5 separate regions of the Homo sapiens genome follow, and all the other regions are linked to region 5. The links come from fine-mapping of genetic effects on gene expression. A gene starts in region 5. Each other region holds a variant in brackets. All regions are shown on one strand. Distances are between the middles of the regions.

Region 1 (5,134 bases), 130 kb after region 5:
ACATAGTGGTACTGTGCAAGCTCATGGAATGCAGTGAGGCCACTGACCCCAAGTAGAGGCAGGCTTGGCCGGCAGTTCCCAGTTTCCCCACTGGTTTCCTCATTGGTTCTTCAGAGGGCTGAGCTTTAGGCTGAGTGGGCTAGGAAGCCCCACTCAGTTGGTGTTTAACAAGGACAGTGTCCTCTAGCTCCTCAGCACTTCCACAGTCATGGAAAAAGGTCATTAACTAAAGTTAGAAAAAAAAAAGTCACGGTTTATTTTAGATTTCCAACTAAAGATAGAAAGAGATCATTTTACAGCAGAATTTGAAACGAGGACTTTGCTGAAAAGATGTAGCATGGCATCCTGCCTCAGGCAAGGTGCTTGGAGTCCAGCGATATGGATGGAATCCCAGCTCTTACATAAGAGCACAATGGGTTGGCCGGGCACGGTGGCTCACGTCTGTAATCCCAGCACTTTGGGAGGCCGAAGCATGTGGATCACCAGGTCAGGAGATCGAGATCATCCTGGCTAACACGATGAAACCCCGTCTCTACTAAAAATACAAAAAATTAGCCGGGCATGGTGGCGGGCGCCTGTAGTCCCAGCTACTCAGGAGGCTGAGGCAGGAGAATGGCACGAACCTGGGAGGTAGAGCTTGCAGTGAGCTGAGATCGCGCCACTGCACTCAGCCTGGGCGACAGAGGAGACTCCGTCTCAAAAAAAAAAAAAAAAAGAGCACAGTGGGTAAGGGAAGCAGTGACTGGAGGAGACTGTCCAGGTCTGAACCCCACTTACTGTCTGTGTGACCCTGGGCACGTAACTTGACCTCGCTGTGCCTCAATCCCATCACCTGTAAGACGGTGCACATGATAGTACTTGCCTTTTTTGCCCTTATGAAGTTATGATGAAAACCAGATAAGTTATTATGTCTGAGTGCTTAAAACAACATCTTGCACACAGTAAACACGGTGTTGTTTAAATAAACATCTACCTTACAGAATTCTTAGGATCAATAAGATGTGTGTAGTTTGCTCAGTAATGTGACTAGGGGAAGTCAGTCATAAAAATAATAACTAGAAATTAAAATTTTTTAATCCATAATTTAAAATTAATGGATATAGATTTATAGGTAGCTGGGCAGACCACTTACAGATGACTTAAACCCTAAAATCACCCAAAGCAAGTTTACTAGGCCTCCTGGGGTTCAAAGTGACCTGACCGGGCTACTCTAGCCACACTGCCTCTGGGGTAGTCCTGCTCCTCAAGGAGCAGTTAAAAAAAAAAAAAAGTGACCTGACCAAGGGACTGGACTGCAGCAGGGTGAAGGGGTGTCCAGGCAGGAACCACAGCACCCAGCACTGACAGCTCCTCAGGCACGTTGCCAGGAGCACTAAGCATCTGACTTAATCTAAGCTTCGTTCCATCTCCACAAGTCCAGGACTTCAGGACCACGCACCTTATCTACAAATGACACCAAGGCTCCAAGATGCTAAATACCATTTCCACGGTCTCCTGGTAGCGCGTGGTAGAGCCTTAAGTCCAGATAGGCTGGACTCCAAGACTTGTGCACTGGCAGAATGCAGAGAGCTCTGGTAACTGCAGTCTCATTCCACAAATAATTTCTGAAAGTGCTAATTAAGATGCATCTTAATTTTTGCTATTTTTCTTGCTGTTAATCCAAAAGTATAAATCCTCCCTCCCTAAACTGTAAAATTAAGCTTGTTGAATGGAGGGTGCAACTACTGTCACTAACTGTAAGCCACCTAAAACTCAACAAATTTAACAGAAATAGAATCTTCATATACCAGTGATTATCCAACAGTATTTTATTCTACTGAAAAAAAATCTCTTGGGCCTTTCTAAAAGAGTTTCACATTGGCCGGACTTGGTGGCTCAGGCCTGCAATCCCAGCACTTTGGGAGGCCAAGGCGGGTGGACCACGAGGTCAGGAGATCGAGACCATCCTGGCTAACATGGTGAAACCCCGTCTCTACTAAAAATACAAAAAATTAGCCAGGCACGGTGGCGGGTGCCTGTAGTCCCAGCTACTCGGGAGGCTGAGGTAGGAGAATGGCGTTGAACCCGGGAGGCGGAGCTTGCAGTGGGCGGAGATTGCGCCTCTGCCCTCTAGCCTGGGCGACAGAGCGAAACTCTGTCTCAAAAAAAAAAAAAGAGTTTCACACATACAGACTTACTTTCTCAAGTAGCACAGAAAACCACCAACAGCAATCCCAATGCTCTTTACATAGACATTTAAAAAGCTGTTTTATACACACGAAAAACAGGTCCAAACTGCTTGAAGAAATGCTTTTTTTTTTTTAAACCAAGGAAGGTCTTGCTTCTGGTTTTCTTTAGAAATCTGAGGTTTCACAAAACAGGTTTCTATGACTTTAACTACACATAAAAATAAATGTGTTAGTTTGGTCTCCAAAGCTCTTGAATCCATTAGAATAAACTATTCCCCCACCATGATGGTCCTCACCGTGGATTTCATCCCTTTTTTATCCTCAACTGTACTCACAAATACAATGTTAACTTTGCCTGCTGCATCCTGCCTTTGCCCTTCATCTCTTTGTGCTGCTGGAGCTGTCCATAGTGATTAGGGGCAGAAAGAGTATGAAACAGATCCAGCTTTCTTGAAAATAGACTCCCTTACCTGTCTTTATGCTAGCTTACCAAAAAGAACGGAGGCTTCCCTTTCCCACCCTGGCAGACCCGTCTGCACAAAGCTCTGGGAGGCAGCAGAATATCTCTAAGCCCCAGCCTCAAGATACATCATCTTACAATTTGTGCTACTCCTTTAAAGCTCCATTCAGAGCAGGACACTGTTTTCACAGGAGAGGAAGTCATTTTATGCAAGTTTTCTGGAAGAAAAGACACTACAATTAATGTTTGGTGAGAAGATGTGTTGAAGAGGACACAGGAACTTTCAAAAATGTCCAGTCATATCTTGAGCATCTCTGCAAAGCTTGAAAACATCATACAGGTCCTGGAGCCAAATTGAAAAATCTCCAAAAGCAAAAGAAAAAAAGTGTCACGAAAAAAAACA[T/G]ATATGTATTCCATTTTCACAGAATGTTCTGCCAAACCCCATGCCCCAGGACCACACACATTCAAGACAACACCCCATACCTCATACCGTGTGTGCAAGCAGGACTTCCCCAGGCCTGAAGCAAGGGCTGGGAAACGGCAGCTACGAGCCCAGCTACAAAGCCGGTGGGGCCACAGTGGCCACACAGCTGGCAGCCGCCTCCAGTGAGCTCTCTACAGGAAGCGAGTCTCTGTACCTAGGGTGCCATTCTTCCAGCCCTCATCTCCTCTCCAAGTACTTAACTACCAAGTCTATTTTAGCATTGTTTACTACTGATGTTACCACGCCATTTAGGATTACTCAATTTTAGGTATCCTGTCCTACGAAATACTTTTACACAAGCTATCAGGAGATAATGTGGTCCTTACCAGTTTCCTGCTTATCAGTCTTCCCTCTCTGCTAACAGAATGTATTCTCTTCCATTTTCCTGTTCTAAAAAAACCTCCCACCACGAATTCCAAAAAAAAAAAAAAAAAGAAAAAAAAAAGCCTCCATAAGAATTTATTTCAAGCTCCTGGTTTTCATGCCCCCAACGCCATGGCCCAAGGGTGCATAGCCCCACCGCAGTCCTCAACCCTTTCTCAATGTGATGGCACCACCATTCTTCAGTTATCACAGTACTGTACCTTTCAGATATACAGCATCGGTACCATGATAACCGAAAAAGGACAGTTCAGTCTCATATCTACCTGAATATTCCCTGCCACCCAGCTCACCAACCTCAGATGGGCCATATGATGATCTCCAAGTATGCAAGCACGTGAAAACACACACACACAATGTCAGTACTCAAATAGGCTGTTTTCCGCAACCTCATTTACTATCAATAGGAAATGCTTCTTTCACAGTGTCATTTATAATTCAAGTCTTCTGACACTGTTCTTTTTGAAGAGTGCTTGCTTTTACACCACAGCAGTCAACTTCTGCTAACATTCAACAATCCAAACTCACTTCTACAATTCCCTACTAGTCCAGTAGCATTAATACAAACTCTGTCTTTTGTCATCTTTCCCAGTGAGCTCATATCCTATCATCTTAGACAAAAAGCCTGTTTTCCCACAGCAAGTTAGACAGCTAAGGAAAAGAATGATTAAAAAAAAACTAGTAATAAAATCCAAGCTACACCAAACCAGGAGTTTACCTCTAACCTGGAAACAAAATCTAAAGCACGAACAAAATAACTGCCCAATAGAGATCATGCAATTTCAGTTACCTGGGATTAAGGAAGGAAAGAAATGCAAAAATCCTTGTATGTAAAAATAAACACCAGGTTAAGAGTGACAACTGCTGGCTGATTTGAGGATAAACACAAGCAGGTGTTCATAGTGCAGGCTCTGTGCAGCACAACACCCTTTGTCATTTTGGGCAATGAGAAAATTACACTGGACAGAATAACGAGGTTGAAAAAGAATAACTTACGTGTAGGGAGAGAGAGGGCCTAGCAGGACTTTGGAAACATCCTGCTGTCCAAGGGTCATGAGTAGTAGCGCCAGGCTTTGGTTGGTCGAGTCTACGCATCCACCCTGTAAACACAAATTAATAATTGTACAAACCAGAAAATGGAAAGCCAACAAAAGAGAGGAGGAAAAAAAAAACCAGAAACATACACTCATAATATCAAAATCCAAAGTTCAAGCAACAATAAAACAGAATACAGGTCTTATAAGAGTAATCATTGTATCAACTAACTGTAGAGGGTTAAACTAACAGTTAATTAGAGCAACTGTAATAGTTGAGACTATCAGAATGAGACTATCAGATTCAAATCTTCTTAAGTGAATCTAGTAAAAAAAAAAAAAAATGAAACTTTCCCTTTATCATTAAAGCAGCAGCAGGAGGACATCATCTTTATTGAGTATATGCAAAAAAAAAAAAATCTTAATCAGTTCTAGAAGATGTAGAGTTAATTCCAAGGGTTAAGTGGATGACGCTCATATTTATTGAATCTGTCACAGAACAACACAGTCTATCTGACATGAAACGGCCTTTTCATGGCCTTACTTTTACACTTATTCAAATACATTCAGGAAACTGCTTGCCATACTCTATTAACTTCTCTCCTTT
Region 2 (5,134 bases), 27 kb after region 5:
TGAATTAAAAGATCCTAGGCTGTGCACAGTGGCTCATGCCTGTAATCCTAGTGTTTAGGAAGGCCAGGATGGGAGGATTGCTTTAGACCAGAAGTTCAAGACCAGCCTAGGTAACATAGTGAGACCCCGTCTCTACACAAAATTTAAAAATTAGCTGTGTGTGGTGGCACTTGCCTGTAGTCCTAGCTACTGGGGAAACTGAAGCAGGAGGGTTGCTTGAGCCCAGGAGTTGGAGGCTGCAGTGAGCTACGATCATGCCCCTACACTACAGTCTAGGCAACAGAGTGAGACCTTGTCCCCCACCAAAAAAGAAACAAAGAAAGAAAGAAAGAAAATAAGACCCAAATATATGTTGTCTACAAAATAAAAAAAGCACTTTAAATACAAAGACACATATAGATTCACTAGGAATTGCAAATTAAAACAATAAGATACTACTACCTACCTATAAGAATGACCAAACTCCAAAACACTCACTGCACCAAATGCTGGCAAGGATGTAGAGTAACAGGAACTCATTGATTGCTGGTAGGAATGCAAAATGCTCACTACTACTATTAAAAACAAAGCCTTTTTTTTGCCAGGGGTGGGGGTGGAGGATGGAGTCTCTCGTTCTCACCCTGTTGCCCAGGCTGGAGTGCAGTGGCAGAATCTTGGCTCACTGCAACCTGTGCCTCCCAGGTTCAAGGGATTCTTGTGCCTCAGCCACCAGAGTAGAAAACAAAGCCTATTTTTAATGGAGAAATAAAACATATTCATAATATAAAATAAAAATTGAGAGAGTTTGTCAGTAGTAGACCTGCCCTACAATAAATGTTAAAGGGACTCCTCCAGGGTGAAAGGGACGGACACTAAGAACAAGGGTAAAGGTAGCTACATAAGTAAATATAAAGGACAATAGTATTGCATATATGGTTTATAACTCTTTTCTATATGATTTAAATGACAAATGAATAAAACAATTATTAAAATGCTATGTTAATGTGCATTCAATGTATAAAGATATAATTGTGACAATAACAACAGAAAGGGGAAAGGGATGGGGCTGGAAAGGAGTACAGTATTTACCTACTATTGAAAATAAGGTATTGGTATTAATTTAAACTTTACTGATGTAAAGTTAAGATATTAATTGTAATCTCCAGATAACCACTAAGGAAAAAACTTTAAAATATACAGAAAAAGAAATGAGAAGGAAATCAAAACAAGAAAGCTTGATCTAAGAGCAAGTTGTCAGAATAGTTCTTTGGCTCCAGTCTCCCTCACAGAAATCCAACTAGCAACTATCCATGGACAAGAATTCCTTTGTGAATACCTCAGAACTTGAAAGTAAGGCTGAGACATCCTCTGGGACAGGAGAATGGAGACAAGTTGCATTCAAAGGGTAAAAGGAATAGCTTCAATTTGACTGAAAAGTATACTTCCCCCAAGCCTGCACAGCACCACACAGAGAGAACTCCCCTAGGTCCAGTTTCCACTGTGGGAAAAGAGAGTTGGAGGCAAACATTCAGCTTCCTCGCCAGTCTGGAGCCCTTTGAAGACAGATCACTCCTGTCTTGCCCCATGGGGAACATAGGGCAGGCAGAGGTGGTGGTGGTGGTATTATCAACAGGGATAGGCCATCTGGGGCGGGGCTCATAGTGGCTAACATGCAAATTTTGGTGGTGGCTCTGCATTCTGGCCAGCAGAAGCACTTCACCAGAGAAACTGGCCAACAGAATTGCTCCTAACACAAAGAAATAATAAATGCTTGAGGTGATGGATACCCCAATTACCCTGATCAAAACATTGTATGCCTATATAAAAAATCACACGTACCCTGTAAATATGTACAGCTGTTATATTTTCACTATTTTTGTGAAGAATGTCACTGGTATTTTGATAGGGATTGCATTGAATCTGTGGATCATTTTTGACAGTATGATTATTTTCACAATATTAATTCTTCCAATCCATGAACATGGCATGTCTTTTCATTTATTTATGTTTTCTTCAATTTTTTCATCAGTGTTTTATAGTTTTCCTTTTAGAGATCTTTCACCTCTTAGTTAAACTGATTCCTAGGGGTGTTTTTGTACCTAGTATAACTGCGATTGCATTCTTGATTTCTTTTTCCATTAGTACATTGTTGGTGTCTAGAAATGCTACTGATTTTTGCATGTTGGTTTTGTATCCTGAAACTTTGCTGAATTAATTCATTAACACTAACCTAGGCTGAAGAAGTTTGGGGCAGTGACAGCAGCAGTGAAAGCTGTTGATATCTTTAGTGGCAAGAGTTTTTAGGGTCTTCCTATTTTGGGATTCCCCACAACATGGAGACTTAGCCAAAGGGATCCCTCTTAGTGTCAGGTCTGACATGGCCTATAAGCAGTTGTAGAGGCTCTGAGTTCCAG[G/A]TGCAGGTGCTCAGGGTGGCTGAGGGGCCACACAGACCTAAGCTTAGGGTCTTGTGACCCCACTGTGGCACCTGGGTCTTAGGGTTCAGGTTTGTTCTCTGTGGCCAGGTTGGATGTATCATGCCCACAGACTCAGGTTCTGTGACTCTCAGGCATCTTCTGGCAGCTCAGGCCCATGGAGCGTGTGATTCTACCCCTGGAGGGCAGGGCAAAGCACTGGCCTGGCTCAGGGGAAGAAGGGGTACTCTGGAGGCTTGGGCCTACAGAGCAGGGTATGGCTGCAATTTGGGAATATGAGTCATAAGGCTCAGTAGCAAATCATATCCCAAAGGATGAAGCATCATACAGTGGTGACTCTAGACCCTGGGATAGTGGGACTCAGCAGTATCCTAGACTCTGTGAAACCAGGATCAATGGCAACAAGTACCCCAAAATGGCAGAGCACAGCTGTCCTTTGAGCCCTGTGGGGCATGGAACAATGACTCTACTTCTTGGATAGAGGGGCAGGGCTCTCCCCAGGGAGCAGAGTCTCTGTAGCTCAGACTCTAGAGCTAGTCCAGCTCCAGGAAAGCAGGGCAGTAGAGTTATTTGGCCTATAAGTGTTGTGTCTCAGCTCAGTCACTGCCCTACTTCCCTGGGACGCATGGTACTACATCATCTCATCTCTGGGATGCACAGTTGCTCAGATTGGCCAGGGCACCAATTCCCCAGAGGATGATGTGCCACTTCAGCTCAGGCCTTGGGGGGTGTGACTGTCCAGGATAAATTCATAATTACTAGTCCCACAAAGATATAATACAAAGAAAAAATCAATGGAGCCTGACCCCAAAATGATCTAGCTGTAAGAATAAAGACTAGAATTTTAAAGCAGCCATTATATTATGCTCAAAAATGTGAGGGAAAAATACGCTTTTAATGAATGGATAGATAGGATACTCATTAAATAAATAAAAACTATAAACAGGAACAAAACACTTTTTCTAGAAGTAAAAATATACTATGTGAAAAAATTATATTGTATATTTGAATATATATTTGAAAACTGCTAAGAATGTAGATTTTAAATTATCTCACAACAAAAAAAATATATGAGGTTATGGATATGTCAATCAGCTTGATTTAATCATTCTACAATGTATACATACATCAAAACATCACACTATACATTATAAATATACACGATTATTTATTAATATAAAATTTCTAAATTATATATATAATTTCTAAAAAGACATAACCTAATTTATTCAAAGAGTAATAGAAAACTGAAAGTGTATGCATGCAATAAGTATGGCATTGTTAAATTCATTAAAGGACTGCATACAAAAAAATGGGATTATGCAAATTCTCTTTTTTTTTTTTTTTTTTTTTTTGAGACGGAGTCTCGCTCTGTCGCCCAGGCCGGACTGCGGACTGCAGTGGCGCAATCTCGGCTCACTGCAAGCTCCGCTTCCCGGGTTCACGCCATTCTCCTGCCTCAGCCTCCCGAGTAGCTGGGACTACAGGCGCCCGCCACCGCGCCCGGCTAATTTTTTGTATTTTTAGTAGAGACGGGGTTTCACCTTGTTAGCCAGGATGGTCTCGATCTCCTGACCTCATGATCCACCCGCCTCGGCCTCCCAAAGTGCTGGGATTACAGGCGTGAGCCACCGCGCCCGGCCGCAAATTCTCTTTAAAAATTTTTTTTTATTTTTTTGAGACAGAGTCTTGCTCTGTCACCATGGCTGGAGTGCAGTGGCATGATCTCGGCTCACTGTAACTTCCGCCTCCTGGGTTCAAGGGATTCTCCTGCATCAGCCTCCCGAGTAGCTGGGATTACAGGTGCGTACCACGCCCAGCTAATTTTTGTATTGTTAGTAGAGACAGGGTTTCGCCATGTTGGCCAGGCTGGTCTTGAACTCCTGACCTCAAGTGATCCACCTGCCTTGGCCTCCCAAAGTGCTGGGATTACAGGTGTGAGCCACCGCACCTGGCCTAAATTCTCTTTTTTAAAAAATTAAAATTCTCTGGGTGAACTTAAAAGCATAAGATGAAAGATAAGTTGCTGAACTTAAAGATAGGTGGGTAGAAATTATCCAAGCTGAAGAAGAGAGAAAAACATTGGTGAAAAAAGAGAACAAAGCCTCAAGGATTAGAGTACAGTATCAAATATTCTAACATTTATCTAATGAAGTCCCACAAGAAAAAAGGAGAGAATAGAAAAAATATATGTATTTGATAAAATAATCACTGAAAATTTCCCACACTTAGTGAAAGCATAAATTTATAGATTCGAGAATATGAAAAACTTCCAAAGATGATAAATATGAAGAAAATTGCATGTAAGAACATGAAAGTCCCATAGTTCTTAAAACATGAGTCACGGACCCCTAGGGATCAAAATAATATGAAGATAATATTTGCCTTTTTTTTTTTTTTTTTACTGTGTTGACATTTACACCAATGGGGCAAAAACAATAGTGGACCAAACTGCTGGGGCCTTAGCATGAGTCAAGGCAGTGTCACCAAACTACACTTAACAATTACTGTCTTTTATACCATTAGAAACTCAGTTTAAAAAAAAAAAAAGAAGAAACCAGTTTTACTTAAGAATATTCTTGATGAATCAATAAAAATTATTAATTTAATTAACTCTTAGCCCCTGAATGTACACCTTTTTTTCATTAACAGACTTAATTTATTAGAGCAATTTTAGGTTTTTCCAAAAATTTTGAAGATCTTACAGAGAGTTCCACATACCC
Region 3 (5,134 bases), 43 kb after region 5:
GGCAGGCGCCTGTAGTCCCAGCCACACAGGAGGCTGAGGCAGGAGAATGGCATGAACCCGAGAGGCGGAGCTTGCAGTGAGCTGAGATGGCACCACTGCACTCCAGCCTGGGCGACAGAGCAAGACTCCATCTCAAAAAAAAAAAAAAAAAAAAAAAAAAAAAAAAGAGTTGTAGAAGCAAAGAGAGTTGTCTCAAGAGAAAATTCTCAAAGACCAGGTGCCCAGTTAACTGTGAAAAATATATTTGTTGGTGGCATTAAAGAAGACACTGAAGAACATCACCTAAGGGATCATTTTGAACAGTATGGAAAAAATTGAAGTGATTGAAATCATGACTGACCGAGGCATTGGCAAGAAAAGGGGCTTTGCCTTTGTAACGTTTGACAACGGTGACTCCATGGATAAGACTGTCATTCAGAAATAGCATACTTGAATGGCCACAGCTGTGAAGCTAGGAAAGCCCTGTCAAAGCAAGAGTGGTTCTGGAAACTTTGGTGGTGGTCATGGAGGTGGTTTCAGCGGGAATGACAACTTGGGTCATGGAGGAAACTTCCATGGTCGTGGTGGCTTTGGTGGCAGCTGTGGTGGTGGTGAATATGGTGGCTGGGGATGACTACAGTGGATTTGGTAATGATGGAAGCAATTTTGGAGGTGGCGGAAGCTACAGTGATTTTGACAATTACAACAATCAGTCTCCAAATTTTGGACCCCTGAAGGGAGGAAACTTTGGAGGCAGAAGCTCTGTCCCCTGTGGTGGTGGAGGCCAATACTTTGCCAAACCACAAAACCAAGGTGGCTATGGTGGTTCCAGTAGCAGCAGTAGCTATGGCAGTGGCAGAAGATTTTAATTAGGAAACAAAGCTTAGCAGGAGAGGAGAGCCAGAGAAGTGACAGGGAAGCTACAGGTTACAACAGATTTGTGAACTCAGCCAAGCACAGTGGTGGCAGGGCCCAGCTGCTACAAAGCAGACATGTTTTAGACAAATACTCATGTGTGTGGGCAAAAAACTCGAGGACTGTATTTGTGACTAATTGTGTAACAGGTTATTTTAGTTTCTGTTCTGTGGAAAGTGTAAACCATGCCAACAAAGGGTTTTAATGTAGATTTTTTTTTCACCTATGCTGTTGATTGCTAAATATAATAGCCTGATTGGGACGCTGAATAAATGTCTTTTTTTTTTTTAATGTGCTGTGTAAAGTTGTTCTACTCTGAAGCCATCTTGGTAAATTTCCCCTACAGTGTGAAGTTAGAGTTCCTTCAGGGTGATGCCAGGTTCTTTTTGGAATTTATATACAACCTGCTTGGGTGGAGAAACCATTGTCTTCAGAAACCTTGGTGTGGTTGAACTGATAGTTACTGTTGTGACCTGAAGTTCACCATTAAAAGGGATTAGCAAAGCAAAATCATGGAATTATTGGTTATTAAAACGATTGTTGGCATATCCTATGCAATATATCTAAATTGAATAATGGTACCCAATAAAATTATAGATGGGAATGAAGTTTGTGTACCTTCCATTATCATGCATAATCAATAAACGATTTAATTCTCTTGAAAAAAAAAAACCTGAAAGGAAACACACAATTGACTTCAGGTGTTGACACTTTGGAAGATTTTTCAAGTTATTTATAGTGACAGATATTAATGTTATAAAGAAATAAATGCACTTTTTATTTTAAAAACTCTACCATTTCTCTGAAGAAGAAACAAACAAGATTTTAAAAAATCTTATACTAGTCAGTAGAGTATAGCTTTCCAGCTAAGCAATGAAATCATTTTAAATGGTAAACTTTATATTAAAGATATGAAGAAATGAACATGATTGTCCCATAGTTAAATCATTTTACTGCAGATAAATTGCCTGAAGCACATTTTCTTTGATCGTTCATAGGGATTTATATTTTTAAACAGGTTGAAGTTTAGATGTCCTCAAGAGTGTCACAGTCTAATTATATCATAGGTACGAAGTAGTTGTGTGACTGTATTTAGAAAGCATAACCTTTCTGTTAGCGATATCTCTAAAATGCCTGACACTTTACAGAATACTGTGAAATCAAATACAGACTCTGCTGAGATGGTATTGAAACATTTTGCTGTTAGTCCACGGTGAATACTGGCCTTTAGAAAAGCATAAATACTACTTTCTGCATCTACCAAAGAATTAATTAAATCTGTTGCAGTCTTTTTGATCGTAAAAAATGATTGCTACAACTTGCTTAATTATCCTAATTTTTTTTTCTAGTCAAGAAAAAACTCCTGTGGATATAGGAACCTTGCCTTGCTTGATTGCATGCAGACTGCCAGGTAGTGATACTACCGAAAACTTGTGCTTCCATTCCTTAATTAGAGATAATTGCTGGTTGAATGGGCAATTTTCTTTCTCTTTGGAGAAAGGATCTAGATACTGTGCTTCAAACCAATTGTTCTGTTTCAAGTGGAAGTCCTCTAAGCTGGGACATGAAATGCCAAACTCTTATGCTTCAAATGTCTCCATTTATCCATTTAGGCAAAGCTAGATAAATTTTCTGAAATGGAAATTACCTCAGCATCTTTCTCTGATATTGACTAATTCCCACATCTCTTGTATCTATGCAAATTTTAACCTGAATCTTAAAAACAAACATTTTGGAGAAAGGCCCCTACTAATTTAAAAATTAAACAAACAAAATTCCCTAACCAACTTTACTGGAACCCATTACTTGCTTTTTCTTCTGAGCTATCAGCACTTCTTTCCTAGACTTTAAAGCTGTTGTTCCAATGTAAACAAATATATCTAGCTTGAACTCAGACTTAGTTATCCCTTGCTTTTGCTTTCTACACTAAAACAAAGAAATAAAAAATTTTGCTGAGAAGTGTTCTCGTTTTGAAAAATTTAAAGCAGTAACATTTAGCTAAAAGCTTTTGCCTTAAATCAGCTTATTAAAAAAAAAGAAGAAGAAGAAGGAGAAAGAAAGCATATTTTTGTAGGGACCTGGAGCATAATAAAGTTTAAAACCACAAGGAACTTCTTTTCTT[G/A]AGTCACCTCTTCTTACCAAATAGTGGTTCCTATCAAGTGATTTCCTTTCAGAGTACATTTTACTCCCTACTTACAAACTCCTATAAACAAGTGTGTGTGTGTAACCCAAAGCCAGAAATCCACCTACAGGCCGGGAACAGTGGCTCATGCCTGTAATCCCAGCACTTTGAGAGGCCAAGGCGGGTGGATCACTTGAGGTCAAGAGTTCAAGACCAGCCTGGCCAACATGGTGAAACCCCATCTCTACTAAAAATACAAAAAATAAAAATAAAAAAAATAGTTAGGTGTAGTGGCACACACCTGTAGTCCCAGCTACTAGGGAGGCTGAGGCGCAAGAATTTCTTGAACCCCAGAGGCAGAAGTTGGAGTGAACCAAGATCGCACCACTGCACTCCAGCCTGGGTGACCAAGCGAGACTCGGTCCCCAAGAATAAACAACAACAAAAAAATCCACTTACAACTAGACCAGTTTCTACTTGGCTAAACACCCAGGATAGTCAAAGCTGGACCAGTTTCTACTTGGCTAAACACCCAGGATGTTTAGCTGTCCTTAAAATATATTGATACTGCATATTCTTTAAAAGAAATATATGGTAACAACTATTTTATTAAGTTTTCATTAGTCTAATCGAAAAATAGGATATTTTTCACACATGGAGATAATCCTACCTATTCTGCAAGTCAGTAGGTATTTCTTTCCAATTATTTAAATTAATCTGTTTGTACATTGTCCCTATGGTACATTAGATCATTGCTCTCAATTCTTTACCCCCTCCTTCTGTCAGGTGAACTTCTAATGGGAGTTATTTCCCTCTCTCATTGATGTTGGGCATAATTACATATGTGATTTGGTTTGATCAATTAAATGATAGCACACATGAGCATAGGCCTTAAGTAGTTTGACTTGGCCTCTTTTTTTTTTTTTTTTTTTTTTTTTTTAGACAGGGTCTTACTCTGTCACCCAGACTGGAGTGCAGTGGCACAATCTCGGCTCACTGCAGTCTCTGCCTCTTGGGTTCAAGCAATTCTCCTGACTTGGCCTCTTGCCTTTCATAATCCACCAGGAGAAGAATATGCCTCAGATAGCTAATGGGATTTGGGAACATGTGAAGCAGGCCTGATCCCAACTTGAGGCTTTGATATAAGCCCAGCTGTCCTGCAAAAGAAGCAGAGCATCCCAGATCATCCACAGGCTCATGAACAAGGAAAATAAAGGCTTATTTTTATGAGCCACTGAGTTTTGGAGCTGTTTATTACTCAGCATTGTAACAATAGCTGACTAATATATCCCATATTTCGTGTTCAGTGACATATATATCTGTGAAAATTGATTGATAGAATCATATCCTTATATTAACTCTCAGTCCCGCAATATGCAATGACAAGGAGCTTTGAAGACTCAAATAATCAAGTACAACCCAATGACCAGTGTTTTTTGCTAATATCAATGGGGACCCCAGACAAATAATAAACACTAGATAATATTCCATAATGAAGTTGGAGAAGAAGTAAATAGAGTACAAGAATCAACAAAAATGTAAGAAAATCCTAAAACCGTAAGAGCCTTATAAAAATAGCTGGAGTGGGCAAGAATGTGTGAGTTTAACCAAGCCATCTGCCTTCTGCTCCGCTGGCAAACAATTCAGTTATACAGTACAGCTCTTGATTAAATATAAAAACACTTCTCCCACCCTTTTTCTGTCATAATAATAATTTTGGTGCATTTCTTTGTATACATTGTTTTTTATATACTGCAAGAATTTTTCATGTGGCTAAAAACTACTGAGTCTCAATATTTTTCTGATTCGCTACCATTGACTTACCTAAGATATTTCCACTAGGACAATATAGATTACATATAATGTTTTTTTCATAATCGTTATTTGAAATGGCTGTATAATCTTCCATTGAGTGGATGCACCATAATCTAGTTAAACTATTTCCTGTTGTTAGATTTTAGGCTGTGACTAATTTTTCACTATTATGAATAATTTTCCTGTGAGAAGTGCAAACCGTAGGCATATTTTTTTAATCTCTGGATTATTTCCTTAGTACAAATACCCAGGAGATTCTACTAGGTGAAAGGATGAGAATATTTTAAAATCTCCTGATAGCCA
Region 4 (5,000 bases), 94 kb before region 5:
GCACTGGTCCCCTGGGCCCACTTTTCTTTCTCTATACTTTTGTCTCTGTGTCTTCTTTCTTTTCTCAGTCTCTGGTCCCACCTGACGAGAATTACCCACAGGTGTGGAGGGGCTGGCCCCCTTCATTCAGTAAAGATAGCTGTTTATTTAACACAGCATTTCTCCAACATCTGACAACCAAACCTTTTTTTTCTACAAGCACTCCTTAAAATGTTGTAGAAAGTGAACTTTAGAAACGCTCTTAAGTTTTTCCTAAATGAAATGATTATACTCTATTTGAAAAAATTCTGACAATTTACCTTGCCAAGTTGCTGTAGAAATTTCAAATGTCTCTCTTCAAACTGTGTAGGATCCCGGTCTTCAAAGGCACCAGAAAACCCCAGGGCACCTATCCTCATATTTGGTAACATGTCATTTTCTGTTAATAGTTCATAATCTGGAGAAATAAAGAATATTATCACCTTAAATTAGCAAATAACATTCTCTGGACTAAACTGATATACATTCAAGTTGACCAAAATAATCGTGAGTTAAAAATACTAAATGATACAGGGAAACTCAAATAGTTTCAATTATATTAATGGGAGCCTTTAATCATTACCCATAATCTGACAGGCCTTCAAGAGAGACTTTGCAAAGGATAAAATTTTGTTTTCCAAAATAAGAAGTTTTAGTATTCATAAAGTAAGGTAATATACTGATACTTATTGTGAGAAAGGTGAGTAGTACTGGGGTAGAAAGCACCTATAGGTCAAACACATGCATTTCAGCTCAGTATTTTGAAAAAGGAGAGAACAAAGCAAAACAAATACAGCTCATGTTTAGAGAATCAATCAATTATAAAATATGAGAAATGTTAAAGAGAATTGTTTTTTAAAAGTCAATTTAAGCAAAAAAAAAATACTATAATTTACAACTCACTAAATGGAAAACTAAAATTAGGTTACTGAAAGAAAAGGTCTTTTTGGCTGGGAGCGGTGGCTCAAGCCTGTAATCCCAGCACTTTGGGAGGCCGAGGCGGGCGGATCACAAGATCAGGAGATCGAGACCATCCTGGCTAACACGGTGAAACCCCGTCTCTACTAAAAATACAAAAAATTAGCCGGGTGTGGTGGCGGGCGCCTGTAGTCCCAGCTACTCAGGAGGCTGAGGCAGGAGAATGGCGTGAACCTTGGAGGTGGAGCTTGCAGTGAGCCGAGATCGCGCCACTGCACTCCAGCCTGGGCGACAGAGTAAGACTCCATCTCAAAAAAAAAAAAAAAAAAAAAGAAAAGGTCTTTTTATAAAAATGAAAATAATTCTCAGTCAAGGAGATTAGAATATGTATAAAGCATGAAAAGCCATATGAACATAAGAAATTAAGAGGGCCCAAATGACATCAAGAAAATGTTTTAAAGGAATTAAAAATTAGTAATGATTCATTAAATACAATAAAGATAGAAAGCTGGAAAATCAATAAGATCATTCAAATACATACCTGGAGTAAACAAACTGTTAAGATCTCGTATGATGGCTCTGAAAGAAGGCCTGAAATCTGGTTCATAATCCATACAATTATTTATAAGGTTTGCTAATTCTGCCCACTTTGGTGCAGGAAGCTGATGCCTATCTTCATAAAATTGTAGCTTCTATAATTAAAGAACCACAAACTGAGAATAAATTGTGTAATGCCACACCAACCTTCTTTTTAAAATTAGATGGGCTAAAAAATACAAATCATGTGAAAGAAATATGAAAGTTCAGAGATAGAGTAATTCTAACTTAGTCTATATAAACTTACTCTTTGAGAATCCAGAGCACTTAGAGGTTTATCTCCTCCACTGCAGATTTCCCACAAAGTGGTACCAAAACTCCATTTGTCTGTTGCCAAATTTAAATTTTTAGGATTTTCAATGCATTCAGGTGGTACCCATGGTATTCTCTCCTGAAGAACTTTTAAATGATACGAACAGAGTAGGGTTAAATAATTCACAAGTAAACCAATCTTTTATATGTAAATAGCTTTAAAGTTCAAATCATTTGAATAATCAGGCCTATTTTCTTTATTTTGGAGGGGTTGGATGTGCACATGCACATGACTGCATAAGCTTAAGAACCAGAAGGGACCTTCAAGATCATCTAATTCAATATTTCATCTTTAACAATGACAACATGGAGACATATGATTGAGTAATCTGCCCAAAGCCACACAATTTGTTAGCAGCAGAGACAGAATTAGAATCCTGTACAGTGAGTTCTGAATCAACTAATCTTTCCATTAAACCATAGTGTCTCAACTGGCATACCATTTTCTCAACCTCTTTCCATTAGTTTTACCTTCAAAAAAAAAAAATTTTTTTTTTGAGACAGGGTGTCACTGTGTCACTCAGGCTAGAGTGCAATGGCACGATTGCAGCTCACTATGCTTTGACCTCTTGGGCTTAAGTGATCCACCCAAGCGCTTTAGGAAGCAATCAGCCTCCCAAAGCATTGGAATTACAGGCATGAGCCACTGCACCTGGCCAAATCTTTTTTTTTTATATAGTTTATCCTAAAATTGCCCCATGATACTTTTTGGTATTTCTTCATAATGCGTAAGTAGTAAAGGTAATGTTACATCATTCAGAGATGTTCTAATGATTTAATAGCCATGGCAATTCCCACTTGCAGATAAAAAAAAAAACCCAAGGACCAACAAGCATTTATGGCAGATGGAAGGCTAAATTGCACCAAAATATTCTAGATATATGGAATTGATATAGGTGGGCTCTGCTCAAATCACGGAATTTCTCAAGTAAAGTTTCTGTGGTCTTTGATTCCACCAGAAGGACTGTATTCAAGAAAGGAAGAAGCAATATAACCCTACTTTCTGGTATTCTGACATAGACAGACAGACAAATAGATTGATTGACAAATACCTTCACCATATGAAT[A/G]CATTTTTTTCCATCTTCACTTCCGATTCCAAAGGATAAAATTTTCCAGGATACCAGATGTAAGACCCTGTAAGAATTTTCTGCCATACTCCCTACTCCTGTACTACTGCCCAGTTATCACTGTCTTCACTGTCAGATAAGTCATTAAGTTTAAGTACTATTAGCTTAAATAGGACACATCAGTGCACAAAAATTGATCAATTTAGAATCTAAATTTAGAACATCCAATTAGAGAAATTATCTAAGATAACAAAATTCAGTTATAATTATCTAGACCCAAAAAACCCCTCTCAACTATCTGACTGAAATTTGTATTTTTAACCCACTGTGTTAAGTAGTAAAGATGAACAAACACAAATCAAAGTTTTTTTAAGGTTTTAAAAAGTCAGAATTAGCTGGATAATTAAACTAATTTCTTCACAGAGGATAGAAAAAAATCCTAAAATCTCAGGCTAAATTTTTATTTAGTGACGAGAAGAAAAGAATATTTAGAAAATTTACTTGTGGCTCAAGGAATATTACAAAACTTCATACTAAAAATGGATAAAATCCTATCCTTCATACATAATTAGAGATTAAAACTGTTTTTAAAAAATCACCTCACAGTCCATGGTTATATGCTTATAAGAAAGAAAAATAGAGACTAAGATTTAACTAACAATTTAAATTGCTAAAAGTGATAATTTTATTATTAATCAGGAACATACAAATTAAATGGAATTCAAGGAAAATTAACAACATGCCCTTTACACCACTGCCCAAGTAAAGCTTAGTAACATTATATATAATCCTTCTAGAACTTACTGTCCTTTGGCAAAACTGTAATACTAATGCCAGGATCACTAAGTTTGATGAAAGGAGGATTTCCTGTCTTCCTGTCTTCTTCTCTGATAAGCAGAATATTTTTGGCACATACATTCCCATGAATAAGGGTGTTTTCTTCCTATTAGAGTTAAACGCACATATATTCAAATATCAGTCCACAAGTACTGGAGCATTTAGTATGTTCAAGCCCCCAAAACAGATTTAAAGAAGAAAAATACATGATAGTATAATAATTTGGAGGCATGCATTGAGAAAAAAGGAAATTTATGACTCCTATGCTTCCTGTTTTACATTTTAAATAACACAATAATCTATGCTTGTGATGAAATGAATAAATTAAAACTACCAATGCCATTTCACATGAGTTCTAAGGCTGACATGGTTTGTGTTTCTGGATGGGAGCTGACATTAAGAAATACTACTTCAGTTCTGCAGCAGGACATAGGTGCACCCTGAGGGGTCTGATGACTGGCAGTCCCCCTGGTATTCTTCTCTGTCAACACCGCTTTCTCATGGACCATAATGTACAATGGCCCAAAAATACAGAAGCACATACTTCTGCATAATTTTTGGTTGAATTTTCTAAATCCAAAAGACACAACATACAGATTGTCTATTAGTAGTTCTAAGATATTGATGGGATGACAAAACTTTTTTTTCAAAAGTGATTTTACATACATAAACATATGCCTAAAGTAATCTCTTTTTATCACCTAACACAGACTATTTTACATGAATTGGCATCCAATTACAGATTTATTTTTTGTTTCCAGGTAAAGATAATTTGTATATTGTTTTATAAAATAAAATAGTATCTTTTGATAAAAAGGTTGTACTACTTACTAGAAAATGCATGGCCCATGCCAACTGTTTAGCAACTTCAAGTTTCCATAATATATTTATACAATTTTTATTCTTTTTCAGATATGTATCTAGTGATCCAAATTTTACAAACTCCTGAACCAGAATATCTGCATTAAAATATAAGTAATAATAATAAGGCTTAAGTATAAATATAATTAAATATATGTAATTTAAATCTTTATACTTACATGTGACCATTATAGGTAAAGAAATTAAATTGGCAAAACTCACAACTTTAAAGAAAACTTAATGGATACACAGCATTATATTTTTGGTTTTTAGTTTACTTACAACAGCAAGAGTAGGAGTCTAAACAATTATATATTATTATATATAACATAAATGTATAATATATAATATACCAGCACACCTTTATATATTAGTACTGAATTATGGCTG
Region 5 (5,134 bases):
GGTAGGGGCAACACAATGGGGGTTTAAGCAGAGACACAAAGTCAAACCTTTCCATACAAAGGCTGTAATACTCCCTCACCAGTTTAAGACCTTGAAGTCCTTTATCTCTTTATACTAGAAAGGAGGAAACACGAGTTACAGGCAGATCACCTTATGCAGTCATTCTGCCCTTCTCTGAATCTCCTTTGCCTCCCAGCCGTGATAGTAGCCAAGACTTTTATGACAGCCAGGCAGTTTACCACTTTGCATGTGTCTTACTCACTTCTCACAACAATCTTATAAGAAAGTGAAGCTAAAAGAGTCGTAAATAATATAACTCTTTTTTTCTTTCTTTTTTTTTTTTTTTTTAGACAGAGTCTTGCTGTGTTGCCCAGCCTGGAGTGCAGTGGTGAGATCTCGGCTCACTGCAACCACCACTTCCCAGGTTCAAGCAATTCTCCTGCCTCACCCTCCCGAGTAGCTGGGATTACAGGTGTGCACCACCACGCCCGGCTAATTTTTGTATTTTTAGTAGAGATGGGGTTTCACCATGTTGGCCAGGCTGGTCTCAAGCTCCTCACCTCAAGTGATCCTCCTTCCTCAGCCTCCCAAAGTGCTGGGATTACAGGCGTGAGCCACCATGACCAGCCGTAAATAATGCAACTCTTAAGTGGCAAGAACACCAGGATTCAAATCCAGATCTCACTCCAAAGCCAATGCACTTTCCTATTCTGCCTCAAAAGCATCCCACCTTTCAGTAATAGCCAGGTGAAAGAGAAACAATGTCATATTCCCTTCCCATATCTGAGACACCTGTCTCAAATCACCAAAGGCACACACACACAAAATTCCCTAATGAGTCCCTAAAACTGCTATAAATTGCAAATACAGGATATTCAGTTAGAGCAAAAACAAGCATGGTGTGCTCTTCTGGCCAGCAAGTACTGCAGCTTTCCTATTCAGGTAAATACATGTACTATTAAGGCAAGTGCTGGATACATCCAGTCTGTACATACGTTACACACCAACAGACAAATGCATGTACAAGCAAATAATTCTCACACTTAAAGTGGTATAAGGTGAGGCGGATGGGGGAAGGGAGGCCAAAAATTGATTATTCATCTTCAAATGTTCTGGGTGTTATATCAAAATACAAGCTGATCATCCCTTATCTGAAAAGCTGCAAAATCTGAAACATTTTGAGCACCAACATGATGCTACAAGGGGAAAATTCCCCGCATAGGTACTTAATACAAACTTTGTTTCATGCACAGACGTATTAAAAATATTGCAAATGACTTAGTGGCTGTGTGAATAAGGTCTATATGAAACAAACGAATTTCGTATTTACACTTGGGTCCCATCCTCAAGATGTCTGATTTTGTATATGCAAACATTCCAAAATTTTTAAAAAAAATCCAAAACACTTTTGGTCCCAAGCATTCTGGAGAAGGGATACAAAATCTTTATTTGCAGTAGCCCAACAACTCACTGTACAAACTTATTATGAAACCAAAAGCAATCATTTCCCTTATTCCCACTTCCAGTTTCCTTCTCCATACTCAGCCGCTCCTACCCTTTCATTCAGAGAAATGGAGTTTCTCCTAACAGATTAGTAATTACTGGAAAACAAACTGGGTAAATTCAACCGACACAGCAAGCTTAGGCAGATAAAACCATGAGGAAACATTCAATGTGGTAGCAGAAACCCCAGCAAGAATAGCTAACGTGTTCTCCCAAAAGCTATCTCTTATTGCTTGGAAATACTCCTCTTTAAAGGATTAAGAATCTCTGGCTGCTTAAGAAGAAAGGGTAATGGACAACGTTTTTCGTTTCTCTGCAAAGTCACGTTATGTGTAAAGCCAACAAAAAAATGTTTCTTAAAGGATCCAAGACGAACAACAAAACACCCCAAAATTACTCTCCCAGATCAACATTAAAAGTTTAGCACTGACATTTTCAGAAGAGTAAGCAACAATGAGCCCTGCCTCTCTTCACACGCTTCCAACCTTCCCTACGCACGCACTCCCAGCTCCAGACACCTTCGCCTTTACTGCAGCGATAAAGGACAGCACACCCACCGTCGCGGGAGGAGGAGGAAGAGCCTCTTTTTCTGCAGAAGAGAAACAGTTCACATCTTGTTCCTGTTGCCTGCTTCTGAAACCTAAAAACAGAAGCAGCAGTTAACTACTACCACATAAATCCAGGGGAAACAAATGCTTTTTCTAGGCTGTTTAAGTGTCTAGAAAATTTTAAAAAGGAATAAGGAGGCGGGAGCGAGGGAATTATAAGACACAAATGGAAGCAAATATCACCAGCAAGACTCGTTCTAGGTGTCGTCTTAAAGAGGAAGATTTTTCTGGCTCAGAAGTTTGCTGCCACTAGCAGGGGGCAGGCGGGACCAAAAGGTAGGAAGGGGGTGGAGAGACAGCTGCTGCCCCCCACCCAGAAGCCAGGCAGAGATAACACCCACCGGCTACACAGATCGGGCGACCAGAGCGCGCCCTCGAGCCCGCAGGGGCGGCTCCTACCCGGCGGGTCAAGGTCTGCGAAGCCCCGGGACGGGCACGGCTCTGAACGACCTCCAGGCTGGGCCCTCGGGGGCCCTCCAGTGTGGGCTCAGCTCCCACTCACATCCCTCGGCAGCGAGGACCAGGCCTCTCCCTGCGCCGCAGCAGCCCTCAGCCCCGACGCGCGCCGCAAGCCCGGGCCGAGGGGCCCGACCGGCCGAGAAGCCGAAGTGGCGACGCGAACACCCAAGCGAGCCGGGCGCCGGCCCAGCCTGTCAGCGCCGAGGGAGGCCGTTAGCGGCGTCCGCTGCTGCCCCCTTCTGCTCCTCTTCCTCTCTCCTTCCTGCAGCCCCACACCACTCCCACTTCGGGCAGCCGGGAAGCCCGTCACAGTTGTCTCCACCCTCTCCGGGGCCACACCGTCTTCTCAACGCCGCGGGCGACACTGGCTTCGCCGCCCTGCTAGCTTCGAACTCAGCCTCCCGGTTGGCCTGCAGTCTCCCCGAATGGCAGGAGACCGGGCCGGATAGAGGCTGGGGGAGAGCCGGACGCGCGTCCTGCAGTGCGCGTGCGCCGCTCGGTGCTGGTCGCGGGACCGGCAGGCGCGGGCCACGCAGGGCAGCTGCCTCTCGGGAAGCCGGCGAGCGCGCGTGGAGATTCCTGGGACGGCCCCTGGGCGTGAGCGCGCAAGGAAGTTAAGGCGGCGGCGCCTCGCGAAACGCTGGTGCCCGGCTGGAGCTAGGCGCCAGCGCTGGGCCCGGCCCTCACTAGATGGGCGGGTGTGTGTGTGGCCGCCGCCCTCCAGGGAAGCGGCCGGGAGTGACTCACCCTGGCTGGCTCCCCAGCGCGCAGCCTGCACTGGAGGAGGCCGGGCTGCCTCCGCGCGGAGACTCCCCTCCCGCACACTTCTCCGCTTTCGGCTTTTCCTTCCACCTCCCGGGTACAGCAGACCCGTCCTTCCCCAGTCCAGGCTGCTAGGCCGAGGGGAAGTGGCGCCGGGGGCCGGGGACAACGCGCTCACACACGCTGTTTCGTGGCAATGCGCCCTCGAGAGCCTGACTCCCATCAGCCACCTTGGCTGGAAAGGGGTGAGGGTGGGATGAAGCGCCCAGCCGCCTGCGGGTTGGCAACAAGGCCTAGCGAATGTTTCTCCTAGAGGAGAAACAACTTTACCGGCGTGGCCTGGTGTAGCCCGGGAGAGGGTGGAGACAACGGCTGTGACGGGCTTCCCGGCTGCCAAAGGGCCTCATTCATTCATTCAAATATTTACTGAGTGTCTACTAGGTGCCGGGCTGTAGGTCCCCAGAGATACCAGGTGAACACGACCCCACACACTCCTTGCCCTACTGGATTGTATTCTGATGGAAGCGACAAAACAACAAACAACGCTTTAAATGCATAATGTGCGGGGTGTGTAATTGCCACTAAGAAAATGCATAGTTTTCTGCTGCCATATACATAATAACAAAGAAAAGGAGTAGAAAGTGAGGAGGGGGTGTGCTATTTTACGGTGGCCAGGAACGATTTCCTAGAATAAGTGACATTTGAGCAGAGATCTGAAGGATGAGAATGAACCAGTCCCATGACTATCTGGGAAAAGAATTTCAGGCAGAGGGACTCCTGAAGGCAAAGACCTTGAGAAGGGAAAGTGTTTGGCAAGTTCAAGGATCAGGAAAGAGGTCACTGTGGCTGGAGGACACGGAAGGAGGGGGCAGTGGTAAGAGGTGAGGCCAAAGAAGTAGCCTGGCACCAGATCGTGTAGGGATTTTTTTCAAGTATTAGCCCTCTTTCTGTCAACCTAAATGAAGTGACGCATTCATAGCTCCTGTTTCCCCATACACAACTGATGCTGCTCTTCAGGTCTGTCTTGCACTTAATGGTTTCTTTAAATAAACCTCACCAAAGCAACTCCTGCATTTCTTCTTACATAAGACCCATTGCAAAAGGTCTTTAAGCAAATGATAGCAGCATAGGAAATTACTTGAATTCACCCTGAATCTTTTAAATAATGAACTAGAGCTGTATAAGAGGGAGGGATTTACAGGAAAATTGCATTCCTACGGCTACTGCTTCATAGGTAATATATGGGCAAAGTTAGTAAGAATTTCTAATTATTAATTGTGACTCAATGGCTTAGAATATCAAGGCCGCAATTACAAACAGTGACTACCAAAAGAGTTCCTTTTTTCCTGCAAACAAAAACTGCTACTGAGGTAAAAGCTAGAACACAGACCCACATAATGAAGAAGAGCTAAAGATGAGCTTAACGTCATGGGTAAATGAAAAGCATCACAACTGTGGAAATGGAAATGTGATATTTTGTGAGGGGAAGAAAATGCTTGTTTTAGAACTCTGAAACAGTATTACTTTCATTATAAGTGATGTTTCTATATTTTGCAGTGATATACTTATGTAACTAGGCATGGTATCTCTTACTGTCCACAGCCTGTTTGCAGGGAGAAGCCATTTGAAATTGGTGAATTGCAGGGAGAAGCCATTTGGAAGTGGTGAATATTGAGGATATTTTTGTGGGGGAGCAGGTTATTTTCTTAATATTAGAGATGTGGGTATGGAAGACAAGGTGGACAAGGGGTATATTATTCATAAGCCTATAGAATTGAGAAATCTTCTGTCTCCCCACATAG

The links. PIP is the estimated chance that this variant, and not a neighbour inherited with it, causes the effect.
Region 1: its variant is fine-mapped to the expression of JAK2 in tibial nerve (GTEx, PIP above 0.99).
Region 2: its variant is fine-mapped to the expression of JAK2 in whole blood (INTERVAL, PIP above 0.99).
Region 3: its variant is fine-mapped to the expression of JAK2 in whole blood (TOPMed, PIP above 0.99).
Region 4: its variant is fine-mapped to the expression of JAK2 in whole blood (TOPMed, PIP above 0.99).

What each region holds. Positions count from the first base shown.
Region 1 is chr9:4,848,906-4,854,039 of GRCh38, reverse strand. It overlaps RCL1 (RNA terminal phosphate cyclase like 1), which reads right to left. Exons shown (of 9, transcript NM_005772.5): 8 at 4,490-4,593. It overlaps MIR101-2 (microRNA 101-2), which reads right to left and starts at 3,743; the gene lies at 3,665-3,743. LOC124902113 (a long non-coding RNA gene) reads right to left here and starts at 3,673. Exons shown (of 2, transcript XR_007061402.1): 1 at 778-3,673; 2 at 1-226. The variant T/G (reference allele first, on the strand shown) is at 3,032.
Region 2 is chr9:4,955,728-4,960,861 of GRCh38, reverse strand. No RefSeq gene overlaps it. Among named protein-coding and RNA genes, the nearest start is that of JAK2, 27 kb to the left of the region's middle. The variant G/A (reference allele first, on the strand shown) is at 2,394.
Region 3 is chr9:4,940,384-4,945,517 of GRCh38, reverse strand. It overlaps the pseudogene HNRNPA1P41. Among named protein-coding and RNA genes, the nearest start is that of JAK2, 42 kb to the left of the region's middle. The variant G/A (reference allele first, on the strand shown) is at 3,017.
Region 4 is chr9:5,077,161-5,082,160 of GRCh38, reverse strand. It overlaps JAK2 (Janus kinase 2), which reads right to left. Exons shown (of 25, transcript NM_004972.4): 15 at 4,581-4,708; 16 at 3,717-3,855; 17 at 1,781-1,932; 18 at 1,478-1,628; 19 at 300-436. It also overlaps a transcript of INSL6 not described here. Among named protein-coding and RNA genes, the nearest start is that of JAK2, 94 kb to the right of the region's middle. The variant A/G (reference allele first, on the strand shown) is at 2,913.
Region 5 is chr9:4,982,949-4,988,082 of GRCh38, reverse strand. It overlaps JAK2 (Janus kinase 2), which reads right to left and starts at 2,811. Exons shown (of 25, transcript NM_004972.4): 1 at 2,453-2,811; 2 at 2,061-2,143. RefSeq lists enhancers at 2,009-2,058, 2,859-2,998, 2,927-3,760 and silencers at 2,389-2,718, 3,109-3,188, 3,229-3,278, 4,729-4,858.